Homo sapiens: one gene and its partner. The protein of the gene in region 2 interacts with the protein of the main gene of each other region in a pairwise test. Each region holds a gene or a part of one and is shown on either strand. Other genes may lie near its edges.

The links.
Region 1: the proteins of PTPN12 (region 2) and LMTK2 interact in a two-hybrid assay, tested with the Homo sapiens proteins (one study listed by BioGRID and IntAct).

What each region holds. Positions count from the first base shown.
Region 1 is NC_000007.14:98,109,042-98,117,252, reverse strand, and holds part of LMTK2 (serine/threonine-protein kinase LMTK2 precursor), read right to left. Parts: intron 1-8,211. UniProt on the Homo sapiens protein: Phosphorylates PPP1C, phosphorylase b and CFTR.
Region 2 is NC_000007.14:77,539,821-77,548,031, reverse strand, and holds part of PTPN12 (tyrosine-protein phosphatase non-receptor type 12), read right to left. Parts: intron 1-8,211. UniProt on the Homo sapiens protein: Dephosphorylates a range of proteins, and thereby regulates cellular signaling cascades. Dephosphorylates cellular tyrosine kinases, such as ERBB2 and PTK2B/PYK2, and thereby regulates signaling via ERBB2 and PTK2B/PYK2.

The DNA of each region.
Region 1 (8,211 bases), about 21 Mb from region 2:
GAAAAAAAGAAAAGAAGAGAATACGCGAGTCTCTTCAACAGAACTCCAAAGAATGTCTACAGACACTTCCTTGCAAAGAGGTGGAGCACAGCTTGCCACTCATTAAGTGTTGACCCTGCACTCGTACACCATGGGGAGGGGAGGACAGAGTAACTTTACAGGGTGAAAGCTGACAAACACTACTCAGCCAGGTGATCAAGTGACAAGTCATGCTGTGTGATGTTGTGTGCACACACCCTTGATGTGATGTGATGAGAATGGCACTTTAACTCTGTGGTCTTCCTCCCAGAAACCCACACCCCCAGTCTAATCGTGAGAAAAACATCAGACAAATCCCAGTTGAGGGACATTCTACAAAATATCTGACCAGTCAGTACTCCTCAAAGCTGTCCAGGTCACTCTAAACAAGGAATGGACTGGGGGAGCCCAAGGGGCATAACTACTAAATGTAATGTGGTTTCCTGGAAGAGAAAAAAAGACACTAGAGAAATATTAAAGAAACTGAACAAGCTGTGGACTTATTTAATAGCAATATATTAATACTTGTTCCTTAGTTGTGACAAATGTACTACATTAATATAGGATGTTAACAACAGGGACTGGGTAAAAGATACACAGGAACACTCTGTACTATCTTTGCAATGTTTCTGTAAATCTAAAATTGTTGTGAAAGAAAAAGGTTTTAATAAAAAAAAAACTATAAATGGCCTCATCCCAGGTGAAGGTCTGTGGCTGCATGGGAAGTCAAGTCCGCAAGAGAATGAGAGGCTTCAGCTCATACCCTCTCCTTCACACACACACACGCGGACACAAACACACACACACACGCACAAACACACGCACATGCACACACACACACACAGACACACACTGAGGTACTGGTTTGGAGAACTTAGTTCTCTAGTATCATCTTCATCATCCTCAGTTACAAATGCTGACAGAGCATCTACAACCTGTGACATACCATCCAAACACCAATCCCAAAAATGTGCTATCCCAAGGATATAAGACACGGTCCTTGCAAACTAGGTAAAGAGACAGGACTTAAACAATGATGTAGGCCGGACACTGTGGCTCACACCTATAATCCCAACACCGTGGGAGGCCGAAGCCAGAGGACTGCTTGAGGCCAGGAGTTTGAGACCAGCCTGGGCAACATGGCAACTTTACTTTTGTAGACCATCTCTACAAAAAGTAAAAATTGGCCAAGCATGGTTACATGCGCCTATAGTCCCAGCTACTCAGGAGCTGACATGGGAGGACTGCTTGAGCCTAGGAGTTCAGGGATGCAGTAAACCATGACAGTTCACTGCACTCCAGCCTGGGCAACAGAGCAAGACTTTGTCTCTTAAACAAACAAACAAAAAACCAATGATATGAAGATATAAAGTGGTATTTGGTATTTATTAAGTGCAAGTAGTAGACTGGTATGATGAAACCAAACCTTTCTTTTTTTGCTTTTTTTGAGATGGAGTCTTGCTCTGTCACTAGGCCTGGGCACAGTGGTGCGATCTCAGCTCACTGCAACCTCCGCCTCCCGGGTTCAACCTCAGCCTCCTGAGTAGCTGGGACTATAAGTGCCCGCCACCACACTCAGCTGACTTTTTAGTAGAGACGGGGTTTCACCATGTTGGCCAGGATGGTCTCAATCTCTTGACCTCGTGACCCGCCCGCCTCGGCCTCCCAAAGTGCTGAGATTACAGGTGTGAGCCACAGCACCCGGCCCAAAACCAAACCTTTCTTGATTTCAGCCAGCAGTAATTTCTCTCTCCTCTCTCCCGCCCTCCCTTCCTTCTTTTCTTTTTTTCTTCTCTTTCTTTCTTCTTTCTTTTTCTCTTTCTTTGAGTCTCGCTCTGTCGCCCAGGCTGGTGTGCAATGGCATGATCTCGGCTCACTGCAACCTCTGCCTCCTGGGTTCAAGCGACTCTCCTGCCTCAGCCTCCTGAGTAGCTGAGACTTTAGGAGTGTGCCACCATACCCAGCTAATTTTTGTGTTTTTTAGTATAGACGGGGTTTCTCCGTGTTGTCCAGGCTGGTCTTGAACTCCTGACCTCACGTGATCCACCCACCTCGACCTCCCACCGTGCTGGGATTACAGGCATGAGCCACTGTACCCAGGCAGTACATTTTATGTTCTTTCCGTCCCATGTCATTTATAAATCAAAAAATGTGTTAGTGTACCACACATTCTATACCTTAAAACATCACATAAGTTGACCTTTTAAGAGGATGAAATGAGAATAAACATCAGTTCCAATGTTTTCGTCTGGCACCCCATGAAACATCTTGCTCCACAGGTATACACTCTCAAGTTCACCAAGGGAAGGAATCTCTAAGGGCTGGGCCAGGATCAATAACTCAGTAGGGAAGGTGGGTCCGCAAAGAGGTTTTAAAAAAAATAAAAAGATGGCAGCACTTACAGAAGCAGGAAAAGAGGCAATTGCAAACAGGGAGAATATATGGAGAGCCAGAAGATGGGAATTTGCATGGAATATTTTGCAAGCGATAGGCAGATCAAGTTAGCTCTGAAAAAAGTGCTGTGGAGGGTGGAGGCAGGAACAACAACAGATGCGCTGCAGCAGACACCCCGATGCGACCGTCTCCCTTCACCAGATGCAGGGAGACAGGGGCTACTTTAGCCATAGCACAAGGTCCTGCACACCTAATTTGACCTGATGGTAACTCAAGCCTTTTAAAATATTAAAACTACCCAGGTGCAGTGGCTCATGCCTGTAATCCCAGCACTTTGGGAGGCTGAGGTGGGAGGATCACTTGAGTCCAGGAGTTTGAGACCAGCCTGGGCAATATAGTGAGATCCCATCTCTATAGAAAAAATATGTTTTACATCAGTCAGGCATGGTGGTATCCACCTGTAGTCCCAGCTATTCAGGAGGCTGAGGTGGGAGGATCGTTTTAGCCCAAGAAGTAGAGACTGCAGTGAATATGACTGCACCACTGCATTCCAGCCTGAGTGACAGAACAAGACCCTGTCTCAAAAAAAAAAAAAAAAAACTTTAAAAAAACACATATAATAAAATGCAAAACCTACCTACCAAATTGTCAAAAATTAAACAGAAGGTTTACCACCACCACCCCCTCCTACCAAAGGCCCAGGTGGGCAGAGGAATACAGAGTCACTCTTTTGTGGTTGGGGAAGGAAAAAAAGGCAGAGAAAATGAAAGATACTGATCAATGCTGTGGCTGCGGGTACCTGAGACATCTGGCATAAATAGTGCTCACTTTTCCCACCTGAATCACAATACAATAAATGACATTTGGAATCACTGCACTGAGCTAACTTTTGCAAAAAAAAAAAAAAGAATTTAATAATGAGGTTACTTTTCTGATATGCCTGCTCTTTGTGACAAACAATTGTAATGCCAAGGCAGGGCTCCGAATTAGCCACTTGCTACAATTTTAAAAGACATCAATCCAATATTTTGCTCTGCAGACATGCTAATTTTACCATAACTTCCCCAGTTTTCTGCAACAGTATCTTCATAAGAAGATTCAAAGAAAAGCTGATAATGGAATCTAAAATCCCTAGAGGGAGCAGTCTTCTAGATCAGAGATGGTTGTCCAGCATCTCCTCCGAGAATATTCCTTCCCTCATTTTAGTAAATACAAAGTTTTAAAACAGTAATAAAGCACTGCTAGTCGACTATAAAAGCACATGATTTTAAATGAGAAAGGGCCAGGTGCGGTGGCTCACACCTATAATCCTACCACTTTTGGAGACTGAGGCAGGAGGATCACTTGAGGCCAGGAATTTGAGACCAGCCTGGGCAACACAGTGAGACGCCAGCTGTATTAGTCCATTCTTACAGTGCTATAAAGAATCGCTCAAGACTGGGTAATTTATCAAGGAAAGAGGTTTAATTGACTCACAGTTCCACATGGCTGGGGAGGCCTCAGGAAACTTATAAACACGGTGGAAGGGGAAGCAAACATGTCCTTCGTCACATGGCAGCAGGAGAGAGAAGTGCCAAGCAAAGGGGGAAAAGTCCTTACAAAACCATCAGATCTTGTGAGAACTCATTCACTATCACAAGAATAGCATGGGGGTAACCACCCCCATGATTCAACTATCTCCCATGGGGTTCCTCACACGACATATGGGGATTACGGGAACTACAATTCAAGATAAGAATTGGGTGAGGAAACAGCCAAACCATATCACCATCTCTACAAAAAAATAAAGTGGGCATGGTGGCACACACCTGTAGTCACACACCTACAGGTAAGTGTCTGTAGGTGACACACACCTACTCAGGAGGCTGAGGCAGGAGGATTGCTTGAGCCTGGGAGTTTGAGGCTACAGTGAGCTGTGATTGTGCCATTGCACTCCAGCCTGAGTGACAGAGCAAGACTGTTTTTCCCTGAAGTCTCTTTCTTCTGTTCTGCAGTGGGGAGCTGAGGTTGTGCTACCTCAGTTCTCATCTCTTCACCAGCAAAAACTCCACAATTATTTTGTCTTTTCTTCTTTCTTTTTTCAAAGCCCTCTTCTCACTTCCCTCACCCTTGTAATGGGCCTAGATTTGGGAGTTCACGAAGAATCAGGATCATGATCATAATTATAATCACAGCTGGCCTTACATGTCCTAACCAAGGACTGGGCACTGTACCTGCCTCACACCAGCCCTGTCCCACAGAACCTTTTTCCATAATGGGAAGTTCTCTTCTGTGCTGTCCAATGCCGTAGCCACCAGCCACCTGCAGTTATCAAGCCCTTAACTTGTGGCCAGTGCCACTGAAGAACTGAAGCTTTCGTTCTAAAACGTTTACATTTAAGCATCCACAGGGAGCTAGTGGCTATTGTACTAGACAACACAGGTTTGGACCTTCACAAGACTGTAACTATTCTCTCCGTTTTACAGATAAACCAAGTCTTGCCTGGTGCAGTGACTCATGCCTATAACCCCAGCACTTTGGGAGGCTGAAATGGGAGGATCTCTTGAGGCCAGGAGTTGGAGGTTGCAGTGAGCTATGATCGCACCACTGCACTCTAGCCTGGGCAGCAGAGCAAGATCCTGTCTCTTAAAAAAAAGAAAAATGAGAGGGAGAAAGAAAAACGTCAGTCACATTCATCTCTCTGGTTTCTAAGAGAAAGCATCAGCTCTGGGCTTGTTCTACTACAACCTGGGTTAATCAGGGATGCCTCATGACAATACACAATTGTGTTTAAGATCAAGAAAAACTTTCAAGTGCTCATGATTCCTTTAAATAAATTAAAATCAGCATCTGTTCACATGCAAGAGCTTTAGTCATCTTCCACTTTAAAAACAGGTTTATTACATAAAAGCAGACTAACCCAGATGATCCTAAAAATTTCCAGCATAGTTCTCCAACACTACGAATTTCAAGTAGTAACAATACCAGCTTAGACTTAAATAAACCAGATTTCTCTCTAAAGCATCTCCATCCACCATAAAAAAGTTATTTTGAGCAACAAAGATTTTTTAAATCCAGTAAATTCTAGACATGCCATGTTACGCAGCTACCACTTTGAGCTCCTGCTTTGATGCCATACCACCTGCCATTAGTCAATTTGATGATAACCAAATTTACAAAGAAATCTGAAACAATGAAGCAATCTAGTGTGAGAGGGTACACCACTGTGCCCCCCACAACCCTTTGGGTAAATATTGTCATTGCCACCCTTTTTAATGATGGAGTTCTAAGCCCAGAGGTCGAGTAACTGACCCAGGGTCCTTAAGCTATTCCAGCGGCAGCCAAGGCTTCACACCCAGATCTCACTACAAAGCCCAAGCTCTTCCTACAACACTCTGTTCCAGCTAGGATTGGTTCATGAATTTTACTCTCAACTAAACGAAAAAGTTGGATTATTTCTATATGTCCATTTACAAGAACTTTTTTGAGGACTCATTTGTTTACTGTTTCAGAACCCTGGACGTCCCTTATTTATATGACAGTGTCTTTTTAAAATTATATCTACAGCTGTTATCTAAGTGACACAATACACAGGGGCCAGAGAGGGCCCAAGGACTCTAAATTTTTAAGAGAATTTGCAGGAACACTCAGCACACTGATTATCAGCAAAACTGTAAGGATTTGATAACTTCAGTGCTAATCAGCTACAAAACTGCAGACGGACTTCCTATTACTGTTCAAATGAGCATATTTAGTTAACCCCAAAATATCACCAAGTAAAAGTAATTGCAGCAATCCCAACCAAAATCAAATTTCAAGATTTATAGCTATAAATCCTAAAATAATTTGCATAGAAAGCCTGTTGAAAATAATTTTCCCAGAGGCTGTTAAACACAGTAATTCATACTTTAGAAAGCATTTCCTTTACTTTAGAAATCTTTTTCAAAATACAAGTCTGTTTGTTTAATCTAAAACGAGAGGCTCGGTTTCACAAGCTGCTGTTTAATCAGTAGCTGAGTCCCACTGGCTTCACGGGCTTCCGTGAGGTCCTTTATCTGGAGCTGCTAAAAGCTTCCTCTGTACTCTGTGACCTAATATGCTGCAGAACAATAGAACTGGGTTTCCTTGTCTCACCACTATCCTAATATTAATAAGAAAGTGTGAGCTTAGAGAAATTCGTTCACATATACAAGATCTTTCTTTATTTCTAGTCCCCGTTTATGATGTGAATCCTGAGAATCTTAGAAAAGGCGCATCCATGTTTTCTAAGAGAAGAATGATCTGATAACTATGATCTGGGGAAAAGAACTGAACTGTAATCTTAGTTTGGCAATTTAACTGGGTGTGAAAACAGTGAACTTTCTCCCTTTACATAAAAGCTTCCTAGAGAGGACCAACAAGTCTTAGTCTACATAACAACAAGGGCCCTTACAGAAACACAGATTCTCAGGAAAAGAGGCTCCTAGACGGGGCGGGCGTAGGGGGCAAAACGGCATCCCAGCTCAAAGAAGAGGCCCAAAATAAAGTTCAACCAAGAAATGCCTTCTTGCCTGATGGGCAAGTGCAATCTATATATTTACATAGCTTTATTATGACTGAATAAGAAAATATCTTTTTCAGCTTCTGAGTCTAGCAATGAATCTAGATGATGAAGACACCATAGATAAATGATCTTCAGTTTAAAAGCTGAATTTCAGTTAACTGCATGCTTTCTCTAAGGCACCATTAAACTGGATAGACTGATCAGGCTTCAAGCAGAAAGAAGAACAAGGAGGCGAAAGACCCTATGAAATGGGTCTATCCTTATTTGAAAGTGTCTAGCTCTATCTTCACAAGGAGTGCAGGCTCCTAGATTACCAGAAGCTTTAGTTAGGTTTTTGGCGTGTAACTGCTCTTTTATCTACCATACATGGTCAAGCGGGATTCCTCTTTTTTAACCAGCGAGCTCACTAGTCAGGATTAGCTTAAAGGTTTTTTTTTAAACTTGGTCTAATATATCTTGGTCAAGAACCCACCTCAGCTAACGAGGATCAATAAACTCTTTTGGATGGAGAGACAAGCCCCTGAATATCTATGTCTGATTGTGCATCTTCCTTTCTTTTTTTTTTTTTTTTTTTTGAGACGGAGTCTCACTCTGTTGCCCAGGCTATGATGCAGTGGCACAATCTCGGCTCACTGTAAGCTCCGCTCCCTGGGTGCAAGCAATTTTCCTGCCTCAGCCTCCCAAATAGTTGGGATTACAGGCTCCCACCACCACGCACGGCTAATTTTTGTATATTTAGTAGAGAGGGAATTTCACCATGTTGGTCAGGCTGGTCTCGAACTCCTGACCTCAAGCAATCCACCCACCTGGGCCTCCCAAAGTGCTGGGATTACAGGTGTGATCCACTGCTCCCGGCCTGACTGTGCGTCTTTTCCACAGACTTTAACCCTAGGTACCCATTATTCATATGCAACACGTCAAAACATATACACCTATCCTACAAAGATCAGAATATGAAAGGAAAATTTGTAGCAAAAGTTGCTACAAATTACCAAATATTTCCTTATGCTATATGTATGTCAAGATTTGATATCTCTATTTACAGATTAACTTTTCTGATTGCTTTGTTCTACAACACCCCAACAAAATTCATTTTATAATTCATGACACCATAAAATTGTAAAAGAATGGAATAAAAACCGTGTAAGAAGTGTACAGGTGGCCAGGCGCGGTGGCTCACGCCTGTAATCCCAGCACTTTGGGAGGCTGAGGCGGGTGAATCACGAGGTCAGGAGTTCAAGACCGGCCTGGCCAAGATGATGAAACCCGTCTCTACT
Region 2 (8,211 bases):
AGATCAAACAACTATGCCATAATAATGGAACATCAAAACACTCCTCATCAAAACACTCAGGAACACAGGCCAATTTCATAATAGCATTTAAGCTGATATTCCTTTGGAAATCCTATTATTTGGGTACATAAGATTTTCTTATTTTATACACACTGACCCTGTTCTTCCCATCTAAAACCCACAGTTCTATCTCTGTTTATCTCCAAGTCTTTGAAAGTGTTGTTGCCTTTTACTCACCTAGTTCACCTGACAAACTCTTCCTTCAAAAACCAGCTCAAATGTAGCATCTTTGTGGAAACTGTCCATGATCTATTCAGACAGATTTAGGCTCTCCTGTCTCTCTGGCTTATATTCCGAATATACTTCCACTGGAGCAGTATGTCATCTCAAATTCCTTTGACTACCTTCTATATACTATGTTAGAAACTTTACATATATTATCTTGTTCTTTCCAGGTAGGTATTAGAGCCCCAACTTCTCTAGATAATCTGCTCAGAATCACAGCAGGGCCAGGATAGAAATTAATGACTGTATAGCTCCTAAACTCCTTATCTTTCCACTAGTCTAAGGGACCCAAACTCCTTGAGAAACTAAGAGCTATGAACTTTCTTCCCCCTAAAATGGGCTTACACACAAAAAATATTATATATAATTTAAAAGGGTTCAAAGATTCCCCTGAAGCCCACCCACTGCCCCCAGGAAAAGTCCCGCTGCTTCTCACAGGTCTGTTCAGTTAGTAAACTTCCTGAACAGAGTACTGCCATGTTTTCAACTGTCAATTCAAAAACACAGTACCTAGGGCATAGTGGGCACTCAGGTATCTCCATAAATACCTTCTGTATGAATGGATAAATGATAGAGACCATGGATGGATGACAGAGACCATGGATGGATGACAGAGACAAATCTTTGCATTCCTTCAGAGCCTATCAGGACAGTCACTCAAATGTTGTTAAAATAGCTTTTTAAATGCCGATTAGATATAAAAGTTATTACAGGAAATGTAGATATTAGCACACTTCCCAAAGCCTCTGAGATTATCATGGTCCACGATATGACTAGGCTTTGTGTCCCCACCAAATCTCATCTTGAATTATAATCCCTATGTAATTATAATCCCCCATGCTATTCTCCTGATAGTGAGTTCTCACAAGATCTGATGGTTTTACAAATGTTTGGTAGTTCCTCCCATGTTCATTCTCCTTCCTGCCACCTTGTGAAGAAGGTGCCTTGCTTCCCCTTCACCTTCCACCACAATCGTAAGTTTCCTGAGGCCTCCCCAGCCATGCTGAACTGTGAGTCAATTAAACCTCTTTCCTTTATAAATTACCCAGTCTCGGGCAGTTCTTCATAGCAGTGTGAAAATGGACTAATACAGTCCACACTCCACTTTCTCCAAAAAAAACTTTTAGGGAGCAACTACTGTTTGCTTCTTATATCTGCCATAGGCCAGCTACAGACCCTACAATACTGTACAAATGCAAACAAGATTTTTGTGTGATTTCAGAAGGAAGGAGATAATTGTCAAGGTTTGACTGCATGAATCTAAAGAAACTTAAATACTACAGGAAATATAAAATGCTGGAAGAGGAGTTCAACTCATATTTGGAAAAGACTAGTGGTTTAGAAATTGCATATCACCTGATTTACCTTATCAAGTTTTCAACTCAAATCTAATGAAAGGCTTTTTTTCTTGTGATATTAAAGATCAAACTTTACAAAGGAGAAAAAGTGCTTTAAGATTAACTGTGCTAAAATATTTATTCTAGAAGGTGAGAATTAATCACATTTTTGCTTCTGAGTTTTTGGTGAACATGGTGAAGTCATTTTAAATTTTTAGCTTTCTCATCTTCCAAGTACTGGTTTATAAAATAAAAGGGGAGACCATCCTGGCCAACATGGTGAAACCCCATCTCTACTAAAAATAAAAAAAGTAGCTGTGTGTGGTCACGGGCGCCCGTAATCCCAGCTACTCAGGAGACCGAGGCAGCAGAATTGCTTGAACCCAGGAGGCGGAGGTTGCAGTGAGCTGAGATGGTGCCACTGCACTCCAGCCTGGCAACAAAGCAAGACTTTGTCTCAAAAAAATAAAATAAAATAAAATAAAAGGGAAGCTTTCTGAGGGAAAAAGTATGTTCAACAGTACAACCACAGATAAGCAAGATTTCATTCATTTAGTAGGTATGCTCAAGGACCAGGAATAGCTTCCTTCAAAAAGAAGAGAGGATACATACCAGAGTATAGAAGTTTAACACTGGAAAGGTACTGTGACATTATGTTAAGAAGGTTCTGGAATGCCAGGCTAAGAAGTACAGACTTTATCCTATAGGCCTGTGATTCTCAACTAGGACCAAAGTTACAAAATTGGATGAAAACTTCCAGGTGAAGTATTTTTTTTTAATTATTAAAAAAAACTATATATATATATTTAAAATTGGAGGGAGCTGAGAAGGGAAAAATCAGGGAATCAAATCTCTCTGGAAAGAGAGACAGACATAATTACAGTTTGAAAAAGGAGCAGCACTTGGATCATATGTTTTGAATTGACTTTCAAAATACACATTTAAAATTTCCAATAATTGTAATGGTCATCAAAGGGAGCAATGAGTTTTTTTAACTTATATTTTTAATAATAAAAATTAAACCATGCTTCCAGTGCAGCCCACATCTCCTGATTGTACAACCAGTATGGTTTCCATTAGCCTACAGATGCTGCCACTTGAAAGTGAGTATGATGTGTTGAATGGACTGGATGAGGAAAGAAACTAGAGGCAAGTAGAGAACAACAGATATCACTTGTAATCACTCTCTAAATACCCACAAATTCACTATTTTTGAAGAGATACCGATGACATGATATCTTGATTTTATTAAGTCCAAAGCCAAAAGTTTAAAAGACATTTTATTAATACTCTAAGACAATGTCAACAAAGTATGATCCATTGGGTGTGGGATGCACAAATACAGAAGTTACCTTAAGAAACTGCAGCTAATAAAATCATATTTATTTAAAATATTTGAATTCAATGTAGCTCTTATCTTGTATTTTCTTTTTCAGTGGATACTGAAAATACAACGAGTTATGTGAGCACATCTGTGTAGGAGGGGAAGAAGCAGTTCTCATGATCGTCTAGAAGACAAACCCTTGGACCACTGAAGAATTCACCTGAAGAATAAATCTGTCTTACAGCATTAAGTTTGTCTACAATGTCTGCACATGCAATGGACATTAGTGCCTATTAAATGCCAAGCACTATATTAAGCAATGGGGATACAGGGATAATTAAGTCCCAGTCTCTAGCCTGGGAGGCGTTCAGTCTGGGGAAGACAGAAATGTAAATATTTATGAATCTAATGAACTCAGTGCTACAGAAACACAGAAGTATTTAACATATGAACAAAAAACCTACAGCCACCTAAATGTTAATGTCTTACTTTCAGTTTCATCCTTTAAAAATCCTTTTTCCAAGTTAAATATCAAATATTGATGGAAAAAAGTTAATATATTTTGAAAGTAAATAAAGTAAAACATTCTTGAGAATGCTTAAAGTAAATTTTTAGTTTACTGTCTCAGTGAACCATGTCTGGAGAGTTACTTAAAAGTTCACTTCCACTTCTGAAGTTAGTTGATGTAAATATGTTTAGGTGAATACTCATCAAAGGATGGATAAGAAAACCATAACTAAACCAGTGGCACTGGGTAAGCACTAAGATTAGCTCAAATGCAAGGACTGGAAAATATTTCCTATCACTCTAGCTTTGAAAGACAAATTAAGACACACAAAATCTTACAAGCTAACCACAAGAAGATACCACTTCACACCCAGTAGGATGCCTATAATCAAAAAGACAGCAACAAGTATCGGTGAAGATGTAGAGGAACTGGAACCCTCATATATTCCTGATTGGAATGTAATATGTGCAGCAGCTTTGGATAACAGTCTGGCAGTTCCGCAAAATGTTAAACATAGTGTTACCACGTGACTGAGCAATTCCACACTTAGATATATACCCAAGAGACCTGAAAATGTGTCCACACAGAAACTTGTACACAAATGTTCATAGCTGCATTATTCACATTAGCCAAAAAGTGGAAACAATTCAAATACCCATCAACACGATGAATGGATAAACAAAATGTGGTATCTATACAATAGAATATTATTCAGCCATAAAAAGGCCAAAAGTACTACGGATCAATACTATAACATGGATGAAACTTGAAATCATCATGTTAGGTGGAGTCAGTCACAAAACACCACATATTGTATGATTCCATTTATATAAAATGTCCAGAATACTTAAATCTATGGAAACAGAAGGTAGATTTGTGGTTGCCTGGGGCTTATGGGAAGGCGGGGAGTGACTGCTAATGGGTACAGAAAGTGAAGAAAATGTCCTAAAATTGATTATGGTTATTGTTGCATAACTTCATCAATGTAATAAAAAACTAGTGAATCATAGACTTTAAATGAATAAATCTTATGGTAGGTACTTATATCTCAATAAAGCTATTATTAGTTTTTTTAAACCTATAAGCTACAACACTGAATAAACAAATGATTAAAATTTTTATATTTATCAAGACTGCAACATAAGATCTTCCCAGGCTAAAGAGGATATACACATAGACAAGAAATAATAAGAAAAATATTCTCTAGTTCTCTCTTTAAAAAAAAAAAAAAAAGGCAGTGGAAGGGGCACACTCTCCTTCAACCAATCTTCCTCTAGCTCCTACCATCTACTTTCAAAATGTTAAAAAAAATGGAAAGACACTAAACCCACCCTTCACCCTATAATCTAGCTTCTTCCCATACCCCAACCCAAACTGTTTTTTCTAGTCACCAAAGCACTCCTATGTGCCAAATGGAATAGGTACTTTCTCAACCTCACCTTACCGGTCCTCCCAGCATTATTTGACTCTGGTAATAACTCCTTTCTTGAAACTCTCCCTGGCTTTTCTGACATCTCTGGTTCTCCTCCCTCCTCCTTGACCACACCTTCTCAGGAACAATCACTAGTATATCCTTCTTTTGGCTGTTATTTTAAGACTGATGTTCTTCAACCTAAAGCTGGTCACTCTATAAGTTTGTTGGAATAAGCTCATTCACTCCCATGCTGTCGACTATCTCCTACATGCTTATATTATGATGCCTACATCTTTAACTCCGTCCTGTCAGAAATCTTGAGCTCTACATTTCTACTGGATGTCTCAGAGGCACCGCAGTTTTAACATGTTGAAAATTAAATTTATCCTCTTCTCCCCCTGAAACTTCCTCCTACAATGTTGTTTGGTCTCCTCTACTTGTTTCTCCTCCCTCACTCCTTACTCTACCAAATGGTATTCTCTAGCTTGGGTGACAGATACCAAGCTAGATATTTTGCGAGTCATAACACTATACTCTTTTCTTCTTTACTACCTACATCTAATGAATCATTGAGACTCCTTTCTTAATTCTTATCAGATGTGTTGTATACACTCTATTTCCCCATCTCAGTTCACTTCAGGCCCTCACATCTCACTTCTTATATTTCAACAGCTTCCAAAATGCCACCCTTCATACTGCTATCAGATTCAACTTTGTAAAACACAAATGACTGTTTACCTTTCTTAAAAGACTCAGTAGTGCTCCAGAAACCCAGACTAATGATTCTCACCTTTTCTACCAGAACCTATCTAAGTAAGTGAAGGTTCAGAGTACAACTCAAGGAGCAGGCTGGAGAAGGTGAGATGGGGGAATGACGCTGGAGTGGACCAGCATGTCTATTTTCTTAACACCTCCCTACTTTCTCCATGTCTCTAGGAGTTACAATGCAGACTGTCCAGAATTGCTATTATCGGTCTGTAGAATAAAATCTAAGTATAGCATAGATGTAAGATCCTTCACAAAAAGACCTCTACCTAACTTTCCCAGCATTACCTTTATCATTTACCATGTATTAGCTCACTGGTTCTCAAAGTATGGTCCAGGACCACCTCCCCAACCCCCAGCCATCAGAGGGAGTCTGTGTGGAGTTAAAACCTAGGTCTGTCAAACATGAATGTGCACCACCCTACTTTATACATTTATCTCTCATTTTGTAAATATTAAAAGTAGAGATAATTGAGATCAAATTCTGGATCAGCCACAAATTAGCTATTTGCTAATTTATTAGCAAAATTAGCATGTTTTCAACATGCAAATAACCATCTAGGCAACATAGTTCTGCACAGTCTGGGTACCTTAGCTGTCTCCTCTTTAACAGTATGGGGCACAACCAAGGCCAGGAATAGACACTCATAGAATAGTAATGACAGGTGGAAAATTTCTATCCTCAATAGTAATCAAGAAATTCAAGTTAAAACAAGATATCAGTTTTCAACCATCAAATAAAGATCAAGAAAATTATAATATGAACACTCATACATTATGACAGTTGTATAAACTGACAAAACTTTTTCAAGTTTATGAACATGTATTAAATGTTTATATACGTCTACCTAGTACTCCTGGGAAGCTATCTTATGCAACAGTGAAAAATGTCAGTTTCAGCAAAAATGTTAATCACAGAATTACTATATGTAACAGCAGAAAGTAGAATGACCTAAATACTCAAACATAAAGAAACAAAATTAAGATATAAGATAGTTACCAAGTAGTAGGCCGGCTACGGTGGCTCACACCTGTAACCCCAGCACTTTGAGGCTGAGGCAGGTGGATTGCTTGAGCCCAGGAGTTTGAGACCAGCCTGGGCAACATGGGGAAACCCTGTCTCTACAAAAAATACAAAAATCAGCAGGGCTTGGTGGGGTGGGCCCATAGCCCCAGCTACTCTGGAGGCTGAAGTGGGAGGATCACCTGAGCCCAGGGAGACCGACGCTGCCGTGAGCCAGGATCGCAACCATGCACTCCAGCCTGGGTGACAGAGTGAGACCCTGTCTCAAAAACAGAACAAAACAACAAAACAAAACAAAACCAAAAAATATTAACAGAGGTAGCCTTTAAATGACAGGACTGTAGGACAGCTGGATAGAGCGAAAAGAGCATCATCACCAGTCAGGCAAGTGGAGTGTTCATTTGAACTGTGGTCTAAGTGTAAGGCATTATTATTATTCTATTAATTTCCAAATTTGGAATAAACATTATTTTATGATGGAACAGTTATATCAGCTACATTATCTCTAAGGCTCAGTCATAAAATGTTAAGAATTTAAAATGCATTTTTAATCGACATCAGAATTTAAAAATAATAGAATCTATAAGCTAATCTTTTTTTTCTCTTTCCATGCCAGGAGAACATAGTTCCTCTCCAGCCTTCCAGTCAGGGGAAAAAGCAGCACCAACTACCGGCTGTCTTAATTACAGCTATTGCTTATCAAGTCAGGAAATTAAAAAAAAAAAAAGCCCTATAAAAGAATAGCCTTAGTCATCAAATCTCTAATGTAGAATCACCTAGCTATACCTAGGTATCATGGAAGAAAAAGGAAACTCATTTACTCTTGGAGAAATGAACTCTCGGTGGCTCATGCCTGTAATCCTAGCACTTTGGGAGGCTGAGGCGGGCAGATCACAAAGTCAGTCAGATGAAAGTTCAAGACCAGTCTGGCCAATATGGTGAAATCCCATCTCTACTAAAAATACAAAAATTAGCCAGGCGTGGTGGCATGCGCCTGTAATCTCAGCTACTCAGGAGGCTGAGGCAGGAGAATCGCTTGAACCTGGGAGGTGGAGGATGCAGTGAGCCGAGATTGAGCCACTGCACTCCAACCTGGGCGACACAGCGAGGTGTTACATCTCAAAAAAAAAAGAAAGAAAGAAAGAAAGAAAGAAATGAACTCTCCAATAGGAATCCCTGACTCATCCCCAAAGCATGAACCCTAAGGCCACTTCTCCAGTACAGGAGTTCAGAGGCTGGGCAACCTGTCCTGATGGCCCGCATCACCAAACAATGCTCCTTCCTGACGGTATATGCCTAGGGATAACAAGGTGACTAGCATGCAAACAAGAAATGACCAGGGACCACACCATCTCTTCTTCCATAACCAAAGTAAGACGGTAAAAAACTAGTTTTAGGCCGGGCATGGTGGCTCACGCCTGTAATCCCAGCACTTTGGGAGGCCAAAGCAGATGGATCACTTGAGATGAGGAGTTCGAGAGCAGCCTGCAAATATGGCGAAACCCCATCTCTACTAAAAATACAAAATTAGCAGGGCGTGGTAGCTTGCGCCTG